Linked DNA regions of Homo sapiens. The protein of the gene in region 7 interacts with the protein of the main gene of each other region in a pairwise test. Each region holds a gene or a part of one and is shown on either strand. Other genes may lie near its edges.

Region 1 (3,500 bases), on a different chromosome or scaffold from region 7:
TTCTTTTTCTTATGTTTCAAATATTTATTGGGGGTGCTGGGGACATGGCAGGAACCGAGATATTACCAGTCCCTGAACTCAGGTAACTGATAGAATTTGAGGGAGAGAGATAGATAAACAAACATATAAATATGTCGTTTAATACAAGCTGTGTCTTGAAGAAAAGGAGGTAGGGAGCGTGTGTGTGTGTGTGTAAAATCCAGTTTAGGGGCGTAGGTTGCTTTCTCTGGGGAAAGTAGCTGAGCTGAGACGTGGAGGAGAAGGGGTTAGCTGGTGAGAGGGGCTTTGGGGTGGGGGAGAGGCGTTCCTAGCCCAGGAAACGGCTTATGCAAATAGCTGTGGAGGGTGAGAGGTTTTCTGAGTCCATCCTAATGAGGGCAATGAGGAACCCTCAGAGGGTTTTCATGTTCTGTTTGCTTTTTTGAAGATTTTATTGTTGTTTTTGCTTTTGACAAGAACACACACACACACACACACACACACACACACACACACACACACACACAATTAAAAAGTAATCCAAACTATAGAGACAAGATATGGCTTTAGCATTCCTTCCCAGAGGCAGTCACTGGTGCCAGTAGCTTGCTTCCTTCCTGGGAATTTTCTACGCATATACAAGTGTATATTCTACACATGAGTAAAATCAATGCCTCATTTTGTTTATTAATTCATAATTATAATACTTATTATTTTTGAGATGGAGTCTCACTCTGCCTCCCAGGCTGGAGTGCACTGGCATAATCTCGGCTCACTGCAACCTCCACCTCCCAGGTTCCAGAGGGTCTCCTGCCTCCGCTTCCCAAGTAGCTGGGATTACAGGCATGCACCACCATGCCTGGCTAATTTTTGTATTTTTATTTTATTGTATTTTTATTTTTAAATTTACTTTATTATTATGACTCTTTTTTTGAGATGGAGTTTCGCTCTTGTTGCCCAGGCTGGAGTGCAATGGCGTGATCTCGGCTCACTGCAACCTCTGCCTCCCGGGTTCAAGTGATTCTCCTGCCTCAGCCTCTGGAGTAGCTGGGATTACAGGCGCCCACCACCACGCCTGCCTAATTTTGTATTTTTAGTAGAGACAGGGTTTTGCCATGTTGGCCAGGCTGGTCTTGAACTCTTGACCTCAGGTGATCCATCTGCCTCGGCCTCCCAAAGTGCTGGCATTACAGGCGTGAGCAACTGCACCTGGCCTATTTATTGTTATTATTGAGACAAGGTCTTCCTCTATTGCCTAGGCTGGTGTGCGGTGGCATGCTCATAGCTCACTGCAGTCTCCAAATCCTGGGCTCCAGTGATCCTCCTGCCTCAGCCTCCTGAGTAGCTGAGACTACAGGTGCGGACCACCATGCCTGACCAATTTTTGTATTTTTTTTTTTGTGGAGACAGCGTTTTGCCATGTTACCCAGGCTGGTCTCGAACTCCTGGGCTCAAGCAATCTGCCCACCTTGACCTCCCAAAGTGCTGAGATTATAGGTGTGAGACACAGCACCTGGCCATCTGCATTGTTTTAAAAATCACAAATGGTTGCGAGGTATACATACTGCCCAGCACCATACTTGTTTCCTTTGAATATATAAATATTATAATTTTATAATATTTATAATATATAATAACACAAATAATAATAAATATATATGGTTTGGTCATATACAATATATAAAATAACATTCACAAACACTTATTGTCAAAGTGCAATTAAATGGGAAAAAAAGAAAAACATTTGGCCAGGTGTGGTGGCTCATGTCTGTAGTCCTAGCACTTTGGGAGGCTGAGGTGGGAAGATCACTTGAGCCCAGGAGTTGGAGGCTGCAGTGAGCTATGGCAACGCCGCTGCACTCCGGCCTGGATGACAGAGGGAGACCTTGTCTCTTAAAAAACCCCAAAAAACAAATCTGATTCTCTGACGCATATATAATAAGCACAGGTCAAAGATTTATTTAAGTCATGAATGAAGGAACCAGCTGTTTCAAAGGAGAATTTGGGCCGGGTGCAGTGGCTCACGCCTGTAATCCCAGCACTTTGGGAGGCTGAGGTGGGTGGATCACGAGGTCAAGAGATTGAGACCATCCTGGCCAACATGGTGAAACCCCGACTCTACTAAAAATACAAAAATTAGCTGGGCGTGGTGGCGGGTGCCTGAGGTCAGGAGTTCGAGACCAGCTTGGCTAACAATGGTGAAACCTTGTCTTTACTAAGAATACAAAAAATTAGCTGGGTGTGGTGGCTCATGCCTGTAATCCCAGCTACTTGGGAAGCTGAGGCAGGAGAATAACTTGAACCCAGGAGGTGGAGTTTGCAGCAAGCCGAGATTGTGCCACTGCACTCCAGCCTGGGCGACAGAACAAGACTCCATTAAAAAAAAAAAAAAGGAGAATTTGATGAACAGAAGTTGATAGGTTTAGTCAGGAAAGACGGGCTGGAGAAAATTTGCCAGGTTAGATACAAAACTGGTTAAAGACCTACAGGACAATACAACTGTAACCTTTGAGGTTACCTTTTCTACCAGAGAGAAATCATTTGCAACCAAACTTCCTGGGGTTACCATTTACCTTGTCGAAGTCTAGACTCTAATCAATAATGAATAACAGACCGGGTGTAGTGGCTGACGCCTGTAATCCCAGCACTTTGGGAAGCCGAGGCAGGCGGATCACGAGGTCAGGAGTTCGAGACCAGCCTGGCCAACATGGTGAAACCCCGTCTCTACTAAAAATACAAAAATTAGCCGGGCATGGTGGCGCATGCCTGTAATCCCAGCTCCTCAGGAGGCTGAGGCAGGAGAATCGCTTGAACCCAGGAGGCAGAAGTTGCAGTGAGCCGAGATCGCGCCACTGCACTTTAGCCTGGGCGACAGAGCAAGACTCTGTCTCAAAAAAAAAAAAAAAAAAAAAGAATAGTAAATCAAATACAGGTACAGTCCCTTAGAATAGGGTCCCCAACCCCCGGTTTGTAGTCTGTTAGGCATGGGGTTGCACAGCTGGTGAGCAAGCATTACTGCCTGAGCCCCGCCTCCTGTCAGATCAGCGGTGGCTCTAGACTCTCACAGGAACGTGAACCCTATTGTGAACTGCACGTGCGAGAGATCTAGGTTGTACACTCCTTATGAAAATCTAAGGCACTGCCCACTCCCATCCATGGAAAAATTATCTTCTACGAAACCAGTTTTTGGTGCCAAAAAGGTTGAGGACTGCTGCCTTGGAATATGAAGCAAACTTTGGGTGGGTCTGTTAGACAAGACTCCCAGATGACTTGGAAATGGCATGCTGTCAGCTTTTTTTGTCTTATTGCCGAGCCTAGAACTTTTTTTAATTTTTATTTTTTTTGAGATGAAGTCTTGCTCTTGTCTCCCAGGCTGGAGTGCAGTGGCACGATCTGGGCTCACTGCAACCTCTGCCTCCCGGGCTCAAGCGATTCTCCTGCCTCAGCCTCCAGAGTAGCTGGGATTACAGGCGCCTGCCACCACGCCCGGATAATTTTTGTATTTTAGTTGAGACGTTTCA
Region 2 (3,500 bases), on a different chromosome or scaffold from region 7:
TATCTATAAGGACAATTATTATTTTAACACTTTTGTATTAACATTTGATCAGTCTTTTTGTATTGCTCATTTTTATATGAAATTAGTTTTTCTTAACTTGAAAAGAGGGCTGACAGGACAGTTTTTCCAATTTCATGGCTCTAGAGTTCCCTTTTCTGTTGTTTTTGTGAAGTGTTTAAAATACACAGAACTCATTTTCTGATATATTCTGGTCTATTAAACCTCTTAACTTTCATCTGCAGTCCTTTTTTTTTTTTGTCTCTGTTGTCTTTGTTGCATTCAACTTGGATTATTTTCCCAGCATCTTATCAGTATGGGGCTTTGTCCATGGAAGGGAGTTTTGGCCATTTGGTTTTAAGAGTTTATTTTCAGCCCTATAAGATCTTACTGCAAACTACTTGCATCACCCACTTTTGGGATGATCTCAATCTGTTGTTTTCAGCTAGACTTATTAAGCAATGAAGTCAGTATCTATGGATGGCTTTAACATTCATGGGTTCATCATATACCCTGTTGCTTCTCTCTGCTTTTTCTTTCACAGGCGCTGAAAGCATGCTGCTCTTATAGCTGTTGGTATTGGTGGGACTACCTTATCACCTAGTGTTGTTTTAGATGCAGTCTGTGGGTTTGGGTATTGCTGTCCTAGTAGCTCTGGTATGCTTTTATTATGTGTGTATTCAGTTTAAAAAATTATGCCATTACCATCTTCCCAGAATCCCCAATCTTAATATTTGTATTATTTTCTACATGTCATCTCTAGATCCTCAGACAGATTCTAAGCCTCCTGAGGGATTGTTAGGATTCCACACAGACTGGCTGACATTAAATGTTGGAGGGCGGTACTTTACAACTACACGGTAGGTGTGTGTGTATGTGTGTTAGAAAGAGAATGCAAAAGAAGCACTGTGTACCCTTTGTTCTTCAATTTGCTGATTTCCTTAAAAGATACTCAAATGCTGCTTAAATATACTATGTGATCTGAAACCATTTTTTATAACTTTTTTTGAAGAAAAAAACATGGTTCACTCCAGAGAAAGCATAAAAGGCATCACTTCAGTGTTTTAGAACATGCTTTTGGCTGGGCGCGGTGGCTCACGCCTGTAATCCCAGCACTTTGGGAGGCCGAGGCGGGCGGATCACGAGGTCAGGAGATCGAGACCATCCCGGCTAAAATGGTGAAACCCCGTCTCTACTAAAAATACAAAAAATTAGCCGGGCGTAGTGGCGGGCGCCTGTAGTCCCAGCTACTTGGGAGGCTGAGGCAGGAGAATGGCGTGAACCCGGGAGGCGGAGCTTGCAGTGAGCCGAGATCCTGCCACTGCACTCCAGCCTGGGTGACAGAGTGAGACTCCTTCTCAAAAAAAAAAAAAAAAACATGCTTTTTAGATATTGAGTAATAAACACACAATATAAGTAAAAATTAACACTACTGAAATTTGTGGAGACTACAACTGCTTTTATTAAAGGGCAGAAAAATGTAAGTTTGGAAGATCAAGAATATTATTATGTAATAATTTGCTTACAGGATAGACAGACAAGTATTTAAAGCAAAGGAAACTAAAACAATGTTTAAATCAAAGGAAGTACCCTATTAGAAGGGATCTGATAAATGGCAACTTACTGCACGTTTTTGTTTCCCAGCGTTACTCCTACCAGGTTGTAGCATGCATCTTTTTGAGAGAGCAGCTGGGATCGAGTATACTCTTGACTTAAATATGTTTGTTTATAAAGACAAATGGAGAAATCAATTTTTTTCCCTGAATTCTTAGGAGCACTTTAGTGAATAAAGAACCTGACAGTATGCTGGCCCACATGTTTAAGGACAAAGGTGAGTGTAACACGTTGTTTTCACATTTCATCTTACCTGTTTTATATCTGTGCTGACTTTATAACTCCTGACCTTCTGTACTTACTAATTATGTCAGTTTTTAAGAGTAAAAACTTATATTTAGCAATTTTTTCCTCATACATTTCTGACTTTATTTTTTGTTTATGGGGGACTTTCTTTATTATAATGGTGACACAGGTGTCTGGGGAAATAAGCAAGATCATAGAGGAGCTTTCTTAATTGACCGAAGTCCTGAGTACTTCGAACCCATTTTGAACTACTTGCGTCATGGACAGCTCATTGTAAATGATGGCATTAATTTATTGGGTGAGTTTATTTAGACTTTCAATATAATTATGTAACTACTCACATTTTTGTAAGTTTAAGATTTTAACTTTGTTTCACTCAGTAACAGTATATTTCCATAAAGTAAAAGTATATATTTTTTCTATTTTTTAAACTAGATGTTTTCACATGTATATGAGTGATATAGGTGTAGAAATAGATTTAGGCACGGGCAGGTGGTCCTTCAGGTAGATAGTCTTTGTACATATAGCTAAATATGTAAGCCATACGCATCAACTTTATATTCTAAATTGATTTACGTTCTATCACAAGTGACTTTAAAGGATTTTGTTGTTTCCTTTTTTAAAAATTGAATTAAGAATGTAACTTGGCTCCAAGTTCTGGATATTCCCCACATTATGTGAGAACTAGAGTAGTCAAGAGGGCAAATCATGCCTTGCAATCATAATTCTCAATTAGAGTCTTGATTCTACAACTTGCTAACTTAGGGAGACTAACTTGGGGAAATTTCTCTGAGTCATATTGGAAAAATGAGTGTTAAAAGCACTCTTGACCCTATCTACATCACAAGATTTTTGTGAAGATTCACGGAGGTGATGTAGACAAAGCCCTTATAAAACACTGGTTGCATATTTGGAAGCTAATAGGCCTCCAAGTGACTGAAGTTGATGTGATGTTAGTACTTGAGGAATGGTAGGCAGTTGGCAATCTTGAGGTCACATGCCTGTCAGCTTCAGCAGATCATTGCCATGTGCAAAGTGGTCAGACGTAGAGTGCCAGAACCTTGGTTTTTAAAGAAAACCTGGGTATCTAAAATTTTATGTGACATGTTTTTGTTTTGAAAACATTACATGCTGAACACATCAGAATCAGCCTGAGGACTGCTGGCTTACAGTTTCTGTAGTGAAATACAAAACACCCATTAACTTTTAGTGTTGCTATAACAAACTTTATATTCCCTTGAACATGTACCTATTGCAAAAAAAAAAAAAAAAGATATTATTTGACCCTTTTAGCTAGTTCTATAACTTTATAACTAAATTCTTGTTGCTTTCTATTTCTCCCATTTTAATTTTTCTTCAAATTATTGATAGCATTTTGTATCCCACTTGCCTAGAAAATGTCAGAAATATATTTATCCATGCTGTGTCACACATCTGCAAACCAAGCTATTACCAAGATTTGCTAGTTTTTTCTTTTTCATGTTTCTCAACCATTTATTTGTTCAAGTGTTCAAAAAGCAGAGCTCTCTGCTGGATTCATTTTATAAAGCATTGTTTTCAGTTAGTACAGTTTCCATCCAAACTCTTTACATTGCCTACAGGTTGCCCCAAGTAATTATATGCTTTAAAACAATCTACAGTAA
Region 3 (3,500 bases), on a different chromosome or scaffold from region 7:
GCATTACATCGTGGACATATTTTCCGTCCACCATCCTGGAGGTCAAATACTGGGATGGAAGAGGTCACTGAAAGAAGTGAGAAGAATTGATAAGATTAATACAATGACACTGGAAAAAGATTACTGACCTTTTGGGAAAAAGTCAAACACTCCCTGAGAAGTATATAAAAGGGTAAGCAAGCATGAGAGATCACTATGGTTTTTGTTTGTTTTTGTTTTTTTTGAGACACGGTCTCTCAGTCTGTTGCCCAGGCTGGAGTGCAGTGGCACGACCACAGCTCACTGCAGCCTTGACCTCCCTGGGCTCAAGATCACTATGTTTGAGGCTTCCTTTTACTGTTCTAACTCTAGGCCAGGGGTCAGCAAACCACAGCACACAGATCAAATCCAGCCCAGCTACCAGTTTCTGTTTGGCCCATAAGCTAAGAATAATTTGTATGTGATTTTTTTGTTAAGGTTTTTGTTTTTTTTAATCTTGCAGAACTGAAGCTATATCCAATAAAAACCTCCTCACCATTCTCCCCTCGCCTCCACCCCGGCAACCACAATTCAACTTTGTCTCTATGAATTTGACTACTCTAGGTACCTCAAGTAAGTGGAATCATATGGTACTTGTCCTTTTGTGACTAGCCTATTTCACTTTAACATAATGTCCTCAAGGTTCAACCATGTTGCAGCACATGTTGTAGCAGAATTTCCTTTCTTAAGCCTGAACAATATACCATTGTATGTGAATACCACATTTTATTTATCCCTTTATCAGTTGATGGACCTCTGTGTTGCTTTCACCTTTCAGCTATTGTGAATAATGTTGCAATGAACATAGGTGTACAAATACCTGTTCTAGTCCCTGCTTTCAATTCTTTTGGGTATAGAATGGAATTCCTGGAGCATACAACAATTCTATCATTTTTAACTTTTTGAGGAACCACCATACTGTTTCCAAAGTGGCTGCATAATTTTACATTTCCACCAACAGTGCGTAAGGGTTCTGCTTTCTCCACATCCTCAACAATATTTGTTATTTTATGGTTCTTTGATAGTAGCCATCCTAATGGGAGTGAGACGGTACCTCATTGTGGTTTTGATTTGCATTTCCATAATGATTAATAACACTGAGCACCTTTTCATGAGCTTATTGGCAATAACTTTCTTTGGAGAAAGGTCTATTCAGTCCTTTGCCTACTTTCCTACTTTTTTTTTTTTTTTTGAGATGGGGTCTTTCTCTGTTGCCCAGACTGGAGTGCAGTGGCACAATCTCGACTCACCACAACCTCTGCCTTCCAGGTTCAAGCAATTCTTGTGTCTCAGCCTCCCGAGCAGCTGGGAATACAGGCACACACCACCACGCCTGGCTAATTTTTGTATTTTTAGTATAGACGGGGTTTCACCATTATTGGTCAGGCTGGTCTTGGACTCCTGACCTCGTGATCCACCTGCCTTGGCCTCTCAAAGTGCTGGGATTACAGGCATGAACCACCACGACCAGCGAGTCCTTTGTCTATTTTTTAAAAAGGTTGTTTGGGAGTTTTTTTGTTGTTGAACTGCACAAATTCTTTATATATTCTGGATATTAACCCCTTATTAGATACATAATTTGCAAATATTTTCTCCCATTCTGTGGCTTCCCTTTTCACTGTGTTGACAACGTCCTGCACAAAAGTTTTAAATTTTGATATAATTTAATTTACTCATTTTTTCTTTTCTTGCGTATGCTTTTGGTGTCATATCCAAGAAATAGTAATCACTGTCAAATCCAGTATCATGAAGCTTTTTGTCCTATAATTTTTCTAAGAGTCTTATAGTTTTAGTTCATTTAGGTCTTTGATCCATTTTGAGTTAATTTTTGTATTTATTGTAAGGTAAGATCCAACTTCTTTTGGACATGGATATCTAGTTTTCCCAACACCATGTTTTAAAGGTTTTTACTTTTTTTGAGACAGGGTGTCGTTCTGTTGCAGTGGCATGCTCATGGCTCACTGCAGGCTCAACCTTCTGGGTTCAAGCCCAAGCCATCCTCTCACCTCAGACTTCTGAGTAGCGAGGACTGCAGACATACACCACCACGCCTGGCTAATCTTTTTTTTTTTTTTTTTTGTAGAGATGGGATCTCACCATGTTGCCCAGGCTGGTCTCAAACTCCTAGGCTCAAGTGATCCTCCCGTCTTGGCCTCCCATAATGCTGGGATGAGGTGTGAGCCACTATACCTTGCGGTTTTTATTTTTAAATGGTTGAAATAAAAGAATAAAACTTTTCGACACATGAAAATTTTATGAAACTTAAATTTCAGAGTCCATAAATAGTTTTTAGTGGAGCACAGCCATGCTCATTCGTTTATGTATCTGTGGCTGCTTCCCCACCACAACAGCACAGTTAATAGCTGCAACAGAGGCTATATATTGTGCACAAAGCCTACAACTTTACTACTAGGCCCTTTACAGAAAACATTTGCCGACCCCTGCTCTAGACCACTGAAAACCCTCATGCTCATCATTCTCAACCTGAAGATCTCTCTACCAAATCCTAACTTTAAAACCTTGCTCAGAAATCCATCTCTTCCATGAAGTTATCTTTCATTATCTCACCCATCTTTAATCAATCAATTTCACTAATCTCCAAAGCACAATTACACACATAATTTCTTGGAGCTGATTCAGTTACACTTTTTGTAAGTGGCTTTCTCCTTACTAAAGTTTCTGTAAGAACAAACTACAGCAGCTGTATTTTATTTTATTTTTCTATTTCTGAGTATAAAGCTCTGATACAACAAACACTTTATTAATGTTTTTGAATGACTGGCTGCTCAGAGTCTTTCAGGTTATTGTACCTTTCATTGAAGACTCAGGTCCGCTGGTTCTTTGAGAGCCATGAGCAGAGCTGTTGTTGGACACCACCACTGGCCCAGGACTCTGGCCCAGGGAAGGGATGGTGTTAAGGGTATTCACCAATTTGGCCACTTCATTGCTATTTTCGCCTGTAACACCAGGTCGCTTCACAGTGACAAAGCTGGCAATGCTCACTGCAGGTGGAGAGGGGAAGGAGGGAGCTACGGTGACCAAGTGATAATCATCTGTTCTCCACCCACCATCCCAACCTGGCTCTGCCATCTCCTCTTCCGAAGCCTTACCTAGCTTGGGATTCGTGGTCTGGTTTGACTGGCCTGGAGACTGAACAGCTAGTTGCCCCAGTGAGGTTGGCTGTGTGGCAGTGGGAGTGGTAGAAGTGCTGGGAGTGGACTTGGTCTGCTGGGACTGGGACTGTGGGACGGTGCTTCGAATGGTAAGAGTGGCCGGGATGACGGTGGTGAAGGTGTTGGTGGTGGGCCTCACAGGCATTGTGGAGCCTGGCCTCACAGGGGTCATCTGGGAGAACACTTGTGGAACTCCAACTGTCGGCTTAACAAACTGGGTACCTGGGGCTTTAAAAGAGAGACAAAGTACCAGATCTTGGTCAGTGAGCTCACCTATAACACATTCTCCCTGCCTTTACTGGAAAGATT
Region 4 (3,500 bases), on a different chromosome or scaffold from region 7:
ACTTTGGGAGGCTATGGCAGGCGGATCATGAGGTCAGGAGTTTGAGACCAGCCTGACCAACATGGTGAAACCCTGTCTCCACAAAAAATACAAAAATTAGCCGGGCATGGTGGCGCGCACCTATAATCCCAGCTACTCGGGAGGCCGAGGCAGGAGAATCGCTTGAACCTGGGAGGCAGAGGTTGCAGTGAGCCGAGATTGCACCATTGCACTCCAACCTGGGCGACAGAGTGAGACTCCATCTCAAAAAAATAAATAAAAAAGAAAGAGAGAAAGAGAGAGAGACAGAGAGAAAGAGAGAAAGAAAGAAAGAAAGAAAGAAAGAAAGAAAGAAAGAAAGAAAGAAAGAAAGAAAGAAACGAACAAGTGATCTTGAGCTTCTAAACATTATGCTCCTTGCCTAAAGGGCTAGTTAGCTCACTTCTAAGAGAAAAGAAGGATGGATAAAACTGGTTTTCACATATTGAAGCTAGCTAATAACAAAATTAAAATAGAATTATCATTTTAATATAACACATTTTAAATGATTTAAATAGTTTTAAATTTCCATTACTGTTTAAACATCAATTTCTTCAGGAAAAACTGTATTGGAATTAGTTACCTTCTATATCTAATAGTCACAAAAAAAGCCGTCACTGCTTAATAAGATCTTTATTCCACCAGGTGTGGTGGCTCACACCTGTAATCCTAACACTCTGGGAAGCCGAGGCAGGTGGATCACTTGAGGTCAGGAGTTCAAGACCAGCCTGGCCAACATGGTGAAACCCCGTCTCTACTAAAAACACAAAAAATTAGCCAGGCATGGTGGCGGGCACCTGTAATCCCAGCTACTTGGGGGAGGCTGAGGCAGGAGAATCACTTGAACCCGGGAGGTGGAGGTTGCAGTGGGCTGAGATCGCGCCATGGCACTCCAGCCTGGGCAACAAGAGCGAAACTCCATCTGAAAAAAAAAAAAAAATCTTTATTCTAAGTCAACCTATTTCCCGCCAGTTACAGATCTTGAAGAATTTCTAGAGGCATATTTAGATATATTAATTTACATTTCTAGCACTGAAAGCAAAGATGAAAACGTTAATATCTAAGTTTAGAATGTCATGAAATATTTATTTAAAAATCCAGTATTAAGGTTTCCTATTTTTCAAATTATCTCCACTAAAAGTTAAATGTTAAGCAGCAAACTAAATTTCAAAAACTAACATGAAAGGCCTTCCATAACAACACATACAATATCTTAATTTACCAGGATTAAAAGGCCATGATTCACTATATAATTTCACCTAAACTTTACCCAAATTTCAGACTGCCTTTTCTTTTACTGAGTTCTTGTACCCAAATTTCAGATTGCCTCTTCATTTACATTTGCCTTCGTGCATCATAACACTTGAGAGACGTATTGTATAGCTTTTAAAATACTGTACTATTCTATTTTAAGTACTTTTACAGTATCATAAAATAATCTGTCCCAAAGTAAATACTAACAAAAATATTTAAGACAAAGTTCAATGCCTGACCTAGTAAGATCATCTCTTGGTAGTTCATTGAAATGACATCTTTATTCGTTCCAAATTATAGCTTCTACACTTCACTTTCTTTCTGCTCTGGTTATGAAATAGTCAAGCTAAAGATCCAAGTCTTTAAATATATAATTGCTACCTAAAGAACATACACAAAATAACAGAAAAAAGATAAATGGCTCTAATTTTTGTATTGAGAGGTCAATTCAAAGAGTAAACACTTAGGAAATTCCAAAATGATTTTTAACTCAACGAAAAAATTCAGAAGAGGCATACCTTAGAGTCTATTTTGTCTTCTAAGAACAGGAACTGTAGGAACTGAAGCATTAAAAACTGAAAATGACACCTTTATCTCTAATATCAGGGTTAAAATCCAATTTGGGGCTAAAAACTTAGCAGTTTCACAGTAGGCAGAAATTCACATTGCCAAACTACTTCCTGTGTCCGACTGGGCAGAATTTTAAGTTAAGAATATCATGCCTTTCAGAAGACTAATGACACTTTTTCAACACTGAATGTGCTCTCACTCTGAAAAGAGTAGCCCTACCAAGGCTGAAATTATCAGCACTTTCACACAAAAAACTATAGCTAAATTTCCATAATAGTTTTGCTTTTGTTCTTGACAAGTCCTATACAAGAAGAGATTTTGCAATAATATCCTTCAATAGATCTCTAATTAATTGTTCAATTTGTCGGTACAGTATTTCATTTTAGGAAGGAGGCATGATGGAAGATAGCTGCAGGAGGTACAACTAAATTGACCAACTATATATATGAGATATTCTCACACACACACACACACACACACACTCACTCTCTCTCTCTTACTTTAAAGAAACAAAGAATATGATTAAGTTGAATTTGAATGAGGGGCTTGATTATAGCCACAGTATAGCCAAATCCATGGTATAGCCAGTCAATTTTGTAATAGTTTATAGAATTTTCTTCTGCTTTGTTCTTAGATGTTCAGATTATACTCTAAATCATTAGCTTATTTCCAGGAAGAAAGAATAGCCTTAAAGGAAGGGATTGTGTAACATGGTATTACACGAATTCCTAGCAATTTTGGTGCATCCGATAGATGAAGAAAATAAAATAAGCTACAATAAAACACTATTACAATTTAGTGTCATATTGTAGATTCAGATATACCATGGATCAAATCACTGCACTACAAAGATACACACAACCCAAGCCTGAAATGTGTGTCCCACAAGGCAGGTGTCAGACAGTCCAGTTCCAACACCAGTATTACACAGCATGATCTTGTTTGTTTTTTTAGATCACAAGTTACTCAATGCATAATACCCCAAAATAAATGTCAAATGAGAATGAAGAACATCAGAAAACAGACCTTTAAAGCAACTATATGACAAATAGAAATTTAGGCTCAACATCAAAGCAATTCTTGCCACTTTAAATACCATCAAATAAATTAGTAATACTGTAGGTAATGAATATTTAAAGACCTACCTAGGCTCTAAACACCATATTGTTTTCTGAAGATAGAACCATATGTCTTAGCTTGTGTGTGTCTGCAGGAAAAAAACCTCACTAGTAACACACAGGCATCTTAAGGAAACAATTTAAGATAAGCTTTGTTAAGAACACATTCTTTTAAAACATACTGGCCACTTGAAAAACCTAATCCATAGCTCACAATGTAAAATATAAGATCTCCATAAACAAAAAACCCTACTAGATATCAACGTCTAAAATCATGTTCAGTTTTCATCATGTTACTTATATCTAATAGAACCCTTTGAGAATATGTAAAACGTACACTTAGAAAAACTATGCATTATTTGTATTAAACTCTAATAAAAATCCCAATTGTTAAACATTTGCTTTTATCTCAAGATTTTACATTTGAAGGTTTTAAAAAATATATAAAAGTCAACAGACTGCACCACATGTGACAGTAATGTCTGCCTACAATCTTAGTTCAACCAGGACTTTTAAAAAAGAACTTAATACTAATTTAAT
Region 5 (2,655 bases), on a different chromosome or scaffold from region 7:
AGAGATTACCTTCTCCTTCTGCCGTCTGTTTGAGAAGCGCCCAGCCCAATTTCTGCCTGAGATGGTTGCTGCTATGAAGGGCAACTCCACACTGAAGGGCCTCCGGCTGCCAGGGAACCGCCTGGGTGGGGGCCAGACCCTGGGGAGGGAGAGGGGAAAGGAGCTAGGCCTTTGACCTAAAAACTCACTGGATAAAGGCAAAGACCTCTCCACTGGGAACGTGGGAGTTGGAATACAGATATTTCTGTGCTGGGGCTTCAGGAACCAGCAGGGCTGGTTCTGCCAGCCATAGTTGGGTTGGGATACCCTTGTCCCCTGTTCTTGGGTGGAGGTGATAGGCGTTCTCCCCTTCTCTCCAGGGAATGCTGGCCTGCTGGCCTTGGCAGATGTTTTCTCAGAGGATTCATCCTCCTCTCTCTGTCAGCTGGACATCAGGTACATGAGGGGAGGGGCAAGACAAGGGATGGGGCTACAGAGATATAGACCAGGAATTCACTGCTTCCTGGATATCTAATCCATCTCACCCTACCAGTTCCAACTGCATCAAGCCAGATGGGCTTCTGGAGTTCGCCAAGCGGCTGGAGCGCTGGGGCCGTGGAGCCTTTGGTCACCTGCGCCTCTTCCAAAACTGGCTGGACCAGGATGCAGTCACAGCCAGGGAAGCCATCCGGCGGCTCCGGGCTACCTGCCATGTGGTTAGCGACTCATGGGACTCATCCCAGGCCTTCGCAGATTATGTTAGCACCATGTGATGGGGCCCGTACCTCACAGTCTCATGCTCGGTACCATCAGCTTGCAGGGGCTGAAGCATGGGCTGCCCAGAACCCCAACCACCAGTTCTATCTTTCTCTTTCTGTCACCTTTTTTCTCTTTTTTCCTTCTTCCCTTGCACTGAGGTCCTGGAGGCCTTGATGAGGCCCAGCAAACAGGCATTCTCACAGCTGGGTTTATAGTCTTTGGGCCCCTTACTCAGTATCCTGGGAACCCTGGGCCAGGAGGTTACAGTGGTCATCATAATTGCTGAAGAGATCCCCTCCCCTGCCCCTGGGTTCCTGCCTTCCCTCCTCAAGCAGGCACCCAGGCTTTAGAGAAGTATAGGGGGCTTCTTCCCTGCTGGGCTTACCACACTGCTCTCAGGCCTCAAACCCTTTCATACCTTTATTCTTTTTTTTAACCAAAAAAGTTTTTCTTATAAAATAAATTTTGGGCAAACATCATGCAGCCCTTCTTGATGATTTTCTCCCAGAGAACAAAATTCAACAGGGCCCTGTGGAGCAAGGAGCCCCTTTTCCCTATCTCCTTCCTCTAAGAGCTACACCCAGACCAGCTGGTTATCAGCGGAGGCCCCGCTGCTCCTCATGAGAACGCTGGTGGAAGACGAAGGTGATGGCAGTGGAGGCAGCATCCCAGGCAGCCTGGAGTACCTCATCCCGGAGCCCCCACTTATCAGTGCAGTGGTTCCACCCTGCCAGGTCTGAAGTGCAGTCAGAACCATCAGGGGGTGGCCGGATCTGACGGCTGTTGACACAACGTCGGCAGTGCAACCTAGGGACAGAAGGCACAGCTGAAGTCACTACAGATCCCATCTCCCTACTGTGTGGGTAGCTTAGAGATAATGGTTAGGGCACTTCCCCACCTGTCATGTGTGTCACTGAGGCTAGCTTCATCCAGGATAAACAGCTCCTTCAACTCGCCCAGAGAGAAGTGGCGCTCTACATCCTGCTCCTCATCCACCACACAGCTGCTCAGTGCCTTCTTGTGGCTCTGACGCTGGAAGATCTTCTCCTCAATGGTCCCTGCCTGGGGAAGAGGAGGTGGGGAATGTCAAAAGATACAGCGCTTAGCCATCCTCATAAAAAGGGAGCAGGAAAACCAAAGGGTTGAAACTACAGCTACCCGAGAAGAGGAGATGAATAAAAAGTATGAGTCCCAGAACATTATCTCTACTCAGCTGAGGTCCATTTTCCCAGTCTGTCTCCTGAGAACATGACATGAATAGTCTGCCCACCCAGGCTACTTTCTATACTAATGAAGGGTCCCAGGGCCTGGCTAAATCCCGTCAGGGTGAACTGAGGTTTGTCTGCTGCAGCTTCAGATTTCTGCACCAAGCCCAACTCTAACTCATTCAATAAATATCATTTAGGTATCTATTCTATTCCAGACCCTGTGCTGACATTAGCATACAAAAAAGAATCATATATATCCCCTATCCTTTAGCTCCTAGACAAACATTTAAACAGTTGATACAATGATAGAAATCTATACAGGGTAACTGCGAGTCCATAAGGATGGTAGAGTAGAACAGTATTGAAAACTTGAAACTCTATCCTTGAGCTCAATCTTGAAAATGAGTAGATGGTTTGTAAGAAAAGACACAAAGAAAGGTATTCCCAGCATAGGAACAAAGGAATACTACTGGCCTATTGGAGGACTGTGAGTAGTTCAGGCTAACTGGAGGTTGGTGGGAGTATAGTAAGAGCTGAGACTGGGAAGTCAGCAGAGGCCACATTAAAGAACCTTGGGGACAGGCACGGTGGCTCACGCCTGTAATCCCTGCAATTTTGGAGGCCGAGGCAGGCAGATCACAAAGTCAGGAGTTCGAGACCAGCCTGACCAACATGGCAAAACCCTGTCTCTACTAAAAATACAAAAATT
Region 6 (3,500 bases), on a different chromosome or scaffold from region 7:
AAAAAAAAAAAAAGTTGGGTTTTTTTTTTTCCGATAGACCCTTGTTTTTAATTTAAAAAAGAAAATACTTAGAATTTAGGCAAGCCTAAACTATGTGATAAATATGTAACCTACCACACTACTTTCATTTCTAACAGAAATGAAAATAAATATATAGGTTGTGATGAACAGTTTACCTACTTATAACCAGTCAATGTGGTGGTTAAACGCTGGAATTTTGGAACCCAACTGCCTGGGTTTGATTTAGACTCTTACTTATCAGTTAGCATGTCCTAGGAAAATTATTTAATCTGAGGAGGCAGTATGCGGTAGTAGCTCTGGAGTCAGACTACCTGGATTCTAACCCATCCTTGACCAGCTGTGTCAACCTGGGCTCACAGCAGGAATTTAAACTCCCAGTATCCTGGCCGGGCTCGGTGGCCCACACCTGTAATCCCAGCACTTTGAGAGGCCGAGGCGATCCCAGCACTTTGAGAGGCCGAGGCGGGTGGATCACTTGAGGTCAGGAGTTCATGACCAGCCTGCCCAACATGGTGAAACCCCATCTCTACTAAAAATACAAAAATTAGCCAGGTGTGGTGGCACATGCCTGTAACCCCAGCTACTCGGGAGGCTGAGGCAGGAGAATCACTTGAACCCAGGAGGCAGAGGTTGCAGTGAGCAGAGATCGCGCCATTGCACTCCAGCCTGGGTGACAGAGTGAGACTCCGTCTCAAAATAAATAAACAAACAAACAAATAAACTCCCAGTATCCTCATCTGTAAAATGGAGACGACAGAACCTATTGCCTAAGTTATTGTGGGGATTATATGAGTTAGTGCACAAAAGGGTGGCACATAGATTTGTAATGGCATGGGGGTAATAACAGATATGAAGTTGCTTGCATGAAAAGCAACTGGTATATAGTAAGCACTCATAAATGGCAGCTGCTATGTTATAGTAAAGGGCATCATTAAGATAATTTTAAAAGAGCTTGAAATTAAATTTAAAGGTGAAATGGGGGTTTAAAATAAGAATTGCCCACCCAAATTTGGAAACTATTTCCTGTTTTTTAAAAGCAGGAAACAGGATTCCTTCACCTCACCCCCTTCTTCTCCTAAATAAAACATGTAAGTGTTTTCCATTTTAACGTTCATTATCGTGGTGACTAAATGACCTGTTTGCATCTGCTTGGGTGTTATTTGTTTGTTTGTTTGTTTTTTGAGATGGAGTCTCGCTCTGATACCCAGGCTGGAGTGCAATGGTGCGATCTCAGCTCACTGCAACCTCTGCCTCCTGGGTTCAAGCGATTTTCCCTGCCTCAGCCTCCCGAGTAGCTGGGATTACAGGCGCTCGCCACCACGCCTAGCTAATTTTTTGTATTTTTAGTAGAGACGGGGTTTCACCATGTTGGCCAGGCTGGTCTGAAACTCCTGACCTCAGGCGGTCCATCTGCCTCAGCCTCCCACAGTGCTGGGATTGCAGGCATGAGCCACCGCGCCTGGCCACATCTGCTTGTTTTTATTTAATCTGATAAATTATTACTTTCCTTGTCACAGTTTTGCATGGGGCTCAAGTCAGTTTTTAAATTAAATATATCCTTGGGTTCCAAGAGGTAACCTCAGAACAGCCAAATTCAGGGCATAACGTTTCTTTTTAATAATATGCTTCTACTTTGACCTGAGTGTGTAAAGAAAAAGAGATTACTGCATATGACTTTGGGTCAGTTTCTTATCTTTCACAACTCTTTGGGGAGAACTTCCTTAGAGAAGGTGAATATTTGAAATGGTATCTTAAGATTTCAATTTCACACACAGTGGTTGTAAGAAATAACTGCCTACCGGTGGGATTTCATTCCTATTCAACGGGCAATTAAATTGCTCAAATTTAAGTTTAACATTTAGAATCAAGTCTCAAAATGTGTTTTTATTATGAATAATTTTAAAGCAATCATGACCTTATTGTATCCTCCCTTAACAACTAGTACATGCCTTATGCAGAAGAGAGACTCAGGAACTATGAGGTGATTGGGACATGTAAAACGGTTCTTTTAAAAGTTGAGAAAATCTCTATTTGATCCCTGCCAGTGGGACTGAAATTTCATTCCTTTTCCCTTTCCCCCAATTCCTTGCAAATCTTAAATATCCTAAAATCTAGAAAATGTTCAAGTTTTCCTTCCTGAATAAGAATGCTAGAAGAAGAATGAATCAATCTACACGATGGCTCTGACCCCAGATGGATCATTTTTTTCCCCTGTGGGCATTTTCTATCCTTTTTGCTTATTACATTTACAATTGTTTTCTAAGGGAACAGCAGTTTCAAGTGACTAAGGTTACATTCCTTTGCTAAAATGGACTTCTGATAGAAATGAAAATGCAAATATAATTGAGAAGATCCCAACATTATGATAATTTACCTCTCTTTTTTTTTCAACCATTAGAAGCCAAGTTGCAACATATGCTTTGTCACTTGTGACATTCATATACAAAAATATGACATTTTGTTTCTAAATGTGGCATTCAGGAACAAAAATAAAGACCTGTCTTAATAGGGTTTCGGCTCCCATGGAGAATTTTTTTAAACTATTCGGTTGTCACAGGCATCCTGTGCTCAGACTCATTTCAGAACATTTCAGGGCCAGCTGACAGATAAGTTTTCACAGATGTAAGGCCTATTAGTAACCTTAGTGATAAACAGATTCGGTTTTCTATATAGTAAAGAGCCCAAAATACATCTTTTAAAAAATCCATTTCAACCGAGCCTTAGGATGAGCATAGAAGCTCAGCTGTTTGCTAGCTGCGTGATCTGGGGGAATTTACTTCACTTCTCTGAACCTCAGTTTCTGTACCTATCAAATGGAGGATGGAGGCAATCATAATGTCACCAGGGCCAGAACTAGGATGAGGCCACTGGGGTGCCTGCTTGCCTCACAGGAGTTTTGAGAGGAGTCAATAGGATATGTATAAAAATACTTTGCACAGTGATGCTGCACAGTAAATGGTCAGAAACGATAGCTGTTGGTATTACCCCATCTTTCAGAAGTAATCACCACTGTATCAGGAAGCAACAATCTCCCAGCCAATCAGGACATCCACCAAAGAGTGCTGAGACTGGGGTGCTGTAGAAAGAGCTGAAGTTCACCTAAGACCTCGGCAAGCCTCAGGCCAGAAATGCAGGGCTGTGCCCATTTCGGGGCCTGGGTAGGCTGCTGACAGCTTCTCTGCTTCTCTGCTACACTGCTACACTGACTGCTTCAGCCACATCCCTGATTTCATCTGATTTTCCCCTCCAACAACTTTCAAACCACCATTTATAATTTAAAAAAGAAGCCAAACAAAGCACTGAAGGAGCCGCCCCCAAATGTCACCATTCCTCAGTGAGTTCTTAGCAGTGTTAAGCTCATAGTGTGTCCTAGTGGAAGGGGCCTGAGAAGTGGGATTTTCTAGCTTGCTCCTTGGAGCAGTAGGAGTTTGAAAGCACCTCCCTAGTGGGTGTCACCCACCCCTGCTCCCACTGCAGCA
Region 7 (3,060 bases):
CTAACCATCAAACCCTGTGTAGGGCTAGATATCTCAATGTAGTCCCTGTACTTAGTCCCAAAGGCTAGTTGGGCTAGAGGGAAACAAATTCTTCTGGACCACGGTTCACAATGAAGAACTGGAAAAAGACAGACAGGCTCAAACCATAGGGCCAAGAATCCTTGTCTCAGGCCTTTGGGTGAAGGTAGGGGTAGGGGGTGCAGGCTGGATCCTCATGTAAGGTATAAAGAAGTCAGTTGGTCCAGAGCCCGGGCCTCAGGTCTCCAGTTTGAAGCCTTTCATGTCTCTCTCCTTCCTCACAGGTGCCCTTTGGGGAAGTAAGCATGGTCCGGGACTGGTTGGGCATTGTGGGGCCTGTGCTGACCCCTCCCCAAGAGCATCCTAAACGACCAGTGCTGGGACTGGAGTGCCCACAGTCAGAAGTGAGTGGTGCCCGATTCTGGGGCTTTTTCCGGAACCTCTGTGGACAGCCTGAGGTCTTCTTCCATCACTGTTTTGTCCACAATCTATGCCCTCTGCTTTTCCTGGCTCCCAGCGGGCGCAACCTTACTCCTGCTGAGCTGCCTGCCAAGCAGCGAGAACAGCTTCTTGGGATCTGTGATGCAGCCCTCTGCCGGCAGGTGCAGCTGCTGGGGGTGCGGCTGGTGGTGGGAGTTGGGCGACTGGCAGAGCAGCGGGCACGACGGGCTCTGGCAGGCCTGATGCCAGAGGTCCAGGTGGAAGGGCTCCTGCATCCCTCTCCCCGTAACCCACAGGCCAACAAGGGCTGGGAGGCAGTGGCCAAGGAAAGATTGAATGAGCTGGGGCTGCTGCCACTGCTGTTGAAATGAGTGCCCTTGGGGCCTTGCATGGGACACATTCAAGACCTCGAAGTCATTCTTGGCCAAGCAGATGACAACACATCTCCTGGACTGGAGCAAAAGGTCCTTCTGTGCACCCTGGTCGCTGGGAAACGTATTCTTTGATCTGTTGAACTGTCTTCCAACCTGCCATGGCAGTTTTGACACTACTCCTGTTTGCCCTCCTGATTCCTGCTTTCTTTACCTTTTAACATTGCCCCTTTCAGGGGACCCCACTTTGTAGGGAATCTGCAGAAGGTGTGCTTTTGCACTTGCAGACTGCTCTACCTCAGTGTTTCCTTGGGAGACTTTATTCAGCTGAGAGTGCCCTAGACAGTAACTTCTAAGGTCACGTTTACTATTTCAGAGGAAATATCTTGCCAGGATACCTACCCATCCTTATAGAACAGTTACCTTTAGCTGACCCCTTTCCTCACAGGGACCAAGACAAAGCATGGGACATGAAATTAAGAGTGAACTTCTTATGGGAGGCTGCAGCTGGATCAGAGGAAAAATCCAGTGTGACAGAGTGCAAGTCAGAAGACCTGGCTTTTCATCCCAGCTTTGAAACTTGGAACTTTTTGATTGACAAATTAATAAACCTCTCTATGCCTCAGGCTCCTCATCTGTAAAACAGGGATGCCTACCTTATGGGGTTGGTGTGAGGATTAACTGAGATCACACTTGAAAGTGCCTTGCATGGGCTTGGCATGTGGGTGCTCATTACATAGTCTTCTTGTTTTCTTGCCTCTGGGTTGAGGATTCACAGCACTGCACTACAAGGGTAGCCCCTCTCCATTCTGGATACCTTGCTAGGAGAGAGTCTGGGCTTCCACCTGCGGCCAGGGTGAAGGGAAAATTCTTGCCATGTCAGAGATGGATCAATGACTATGAAAAAACTAGCCTGTGATTTTTTTTCACTCTAAGCATTAAGAGCTCCTAAAGCCTTTTGTCTTGTTACTTTTTTCCCCCTCTTGCATGCTAGAGGTGGAAGGTAGTCATTTAGATTTCCCCCCTCTTCCCTCTTCATTGTTGGCCAGGGGTTCTCTTGGGCAGCTGGGGGAAGGATGTAGTAGATCTCTCTTTTTTTTTTTTTTTTGAGATGGAGTCTCATGCTGTTGCCCAGGCTGGAGTGCAGTGGCATGGTCTCAGTTCACTGCAACATCTGCTTTCCCGGTTCAAGTGATTCTCCTGCCTCAGCCTCCTGTATAGCTGGAATTACAGGCATGTGCCACCACGCCTGGCTAATTTTTGTATTTTTATTAAAGACAGTGTTTCACCATGTTGGCCAGGCTGGTCTCAAACTCCTGACTTCAAGTAATCCACCTGTCTTGGCCTCCCAAAGTGCTGCTGCCTGGCTGGATGTAGCAGATCTCCAATTGCCTTACCAAACCTGCAGGGTCTCTGTTAAGTGTCTGTTAGGGGTCTTATATGATACTCTGGACACCGTGAGAAACAGGTGATGGGGCAGATGGGAACCTGGTATCCAACTCATTTTTTATGTCTGCTGAATGGTTGACTGGGTGCCCCTTTGGTAAGGGCTGGGAAAGTGAACCAAGTTGGGAGCAGAGCAGGTCTTGAGACCACCTTAATGAGGAACACATGGTCTACTTCCTATCTCCTGGGACACAGGTCATTTCCAGCTTCCAGAATTAGTAAGATTTTTCATATAAATCCTCCCCTACTTCATTGTATAATAAAGAATTTGGCCTTTGTCTTCAGTTCCTGAGAAGGAGACTCTAAATCCTTGGAATTTCCCAAGTAATAGGAGTATCTTTGTTTTTCGTGGCAGGTCCCTGAAACTACACCTGAATTTATGTTGAGATTTGACCTTAGGCTGCACCTAATTTTATATTGAATTTGATCTCAGACCACACCTGAGTTTGCTGTAAGATTTGACTGAGGATGGAGGCTGACCATGCCAGAATGACCAACCATATAGTTACAGGGCTGGGACTTTGAGCTGGATGATACCAGCTTGATCCCCAGGGAGGGGAGAGGGGCTAGAGATTGAGTTCAGCCACATGCCGATGATTTTAACCAATTATATCTATGGTAAAACTCTAGATATAAAAACTTCTGACACAGGTTTTGGTCAGCTTCCTGGCTGGTGAACACATGGATGTGCTGAGGGATGTGCATTGGTATCCTGTTTCTATGAGCAGAGGGCACACATCTGTGCCTGGGACACTCCTGGACCCTACCATATATTTGTCTTCAT

The links.
Region 1: the proteins of SMUG1 (region 7) and CRX interact in binary tests that used the Homo sapiens proteins (3 or more experiments, as listed by UniProt).
Region 2: the proteins of SMUG1 (region 7) and KCTD9 interact in binary tests that used the Homo sapiens proteins (3 or more experiments, as listed by UniProt).
Region 3: the proteins of SMUG1 (region 7) and POGZ interact in binary tests that used the Homo sapiens proteins (3 or more experiments, as listed by UniProt).
Region 4: the proteins of SMUG1 (region 7) and TIAL1 interact in binary tests that used the Homo sapiens proteins (3 or more experiments, as listed by UniProt).
Region 5: the proteins of SMUG1 (region 7) and LRRC41 interact in binary tests that used the Homo sapiens proteins (3 or more experiments, as listed by UniProt).
Region 6: the proteins of SMUG1 (region 7) and LMO2 interact in binary tests that used the Homo sapiens proteins (3 or more experiments, as listed by UniProt).

The regions. Positions count from the first base shown.
Region 1 is NC_000019.10:47,828,437-47,831,936, forward strand, and holds part of CRX (cone-rod homeobox protein), read left to right. Parts: intron 1-3,500. UniProt on the Homo sapiens protein: Transcription factor that binds and transactivates the sequence 5'-TAATC[CA]-3' which is found upstream of several photoreceptor-specific genes, including the opsin genes.
Region 2 is NC_000008.11:25,437,934-25,441,433, reverse strand, and holds part of KCTD9 (BTB/POZ domain-containing protein KCTD9), read left to right. Parts: intron 1-760; coding exon 761-857; intron 858-1,641; exon of another isoform or gene 1,642-1,769; coding exon 1,770-1,828; intron 1,829-2,026; coding exon 2,027-2,155; intron 2,156-3,500. UniProt on the Homo sapiens protein: Substrate-specific adapter of a BCR (BTB-CUL3-RBX1) E3 ubiquitin-protein ligase complex, which mediates the ubiquitination of target proteins, leading to their degradation by the proteasome.
Region 3 is NC_000001.11:151,424,995-151,428,494, forward strand, and holds part of POGZ (pogo transposable element with ZNF domain), read right to left. Parts: intron 3,420-3,500; coding exon 3,129-3,419; intron 3,048-3,128; coding exon 2,829-3,047; intron 68-2,828; coding exon 1-67. UniProt on the Homo sapiens protein: Plays a role in mitotic cell cycle progression and is involved in kinetochore assembly and mitotic sister chromatid cohesion.
Region 4 is NC_000010.11:119,590,465-119,593,964, forward strand, and holds part of TIAL1 (nucleolysin TIAR), read right to left. Parts: intron 3,056-3,500; exon of another isoform or gene 2,988-3,055; intron 1,654-2,987; exon of another isoform or gene 1,512-1,653; intron 1-1,511. UniProt on the Homo sapiens protein: RNA-binding protein involved in alternative pre-RNA splicing and in cytoplasmic stress granules formation. Shows a preference for uridine-rich RNAs.
Region 5 is NC_000001.11:46,276,962-46,279,616, reverse strand, and holds the end of LRRC41 (leucine-rich repeat-containing protein 41), read left to right. Parts: intron 1-2; coding exon 3-125; coding exon of another isoform or gene 126-175; exon of another isoform or gene 176-353; intron 354-359; coding exon 360-435; intron 436-532; coding exon 533-752; 3' UTR 753-1,334; coding exon of another isoform or gene 1,335-1,545; 3' UTR 1,546-1,636; coding exon of another isoform or gene 1,637-1,800; 3' UTR 1,801-2,155; downstream 2,156-2,655. Other genes in the region: RAD54L (DNA repair and recombination protein RAD54-like), read right to left, coding at 1,335-1,545, 1,637-1,800. UniProt on the Homo sapiens protein: Probable substrate recognition component of an ECS (Elongin BC-CUL2/5-SOCS-box protein) E3 ubiquitin ligase complex which mediates the ubiquitination and subsequent proteasomal degradation of target proteins.
Region 6 is NC_000011.10:33,871,577-33,875,076, forward strand, and holds part of LMO2 (rhombotin-2), read right to left. Parts: intron 1-3,500. UniProt on the Homo sapiens protein: Acts with TAL1/SCL to regulate red blood cell development. Also acts with LDB1 to maintain erythroid precursors in an immature state.
Region 7 is NC_000012.12:54,179,866-54,182,925, reverse strand, and holds the end of SMUG1 (single-strand selective monofunctional uracil DNA glycosylase), read left to right. Parts: intron 1-302; coding exon 303-830; 3' UTR 831-1,278; coding exon of another isoform or gene 1,279-1,407; 3' UTR 1,408-2,560; downstream 2,561-3,060.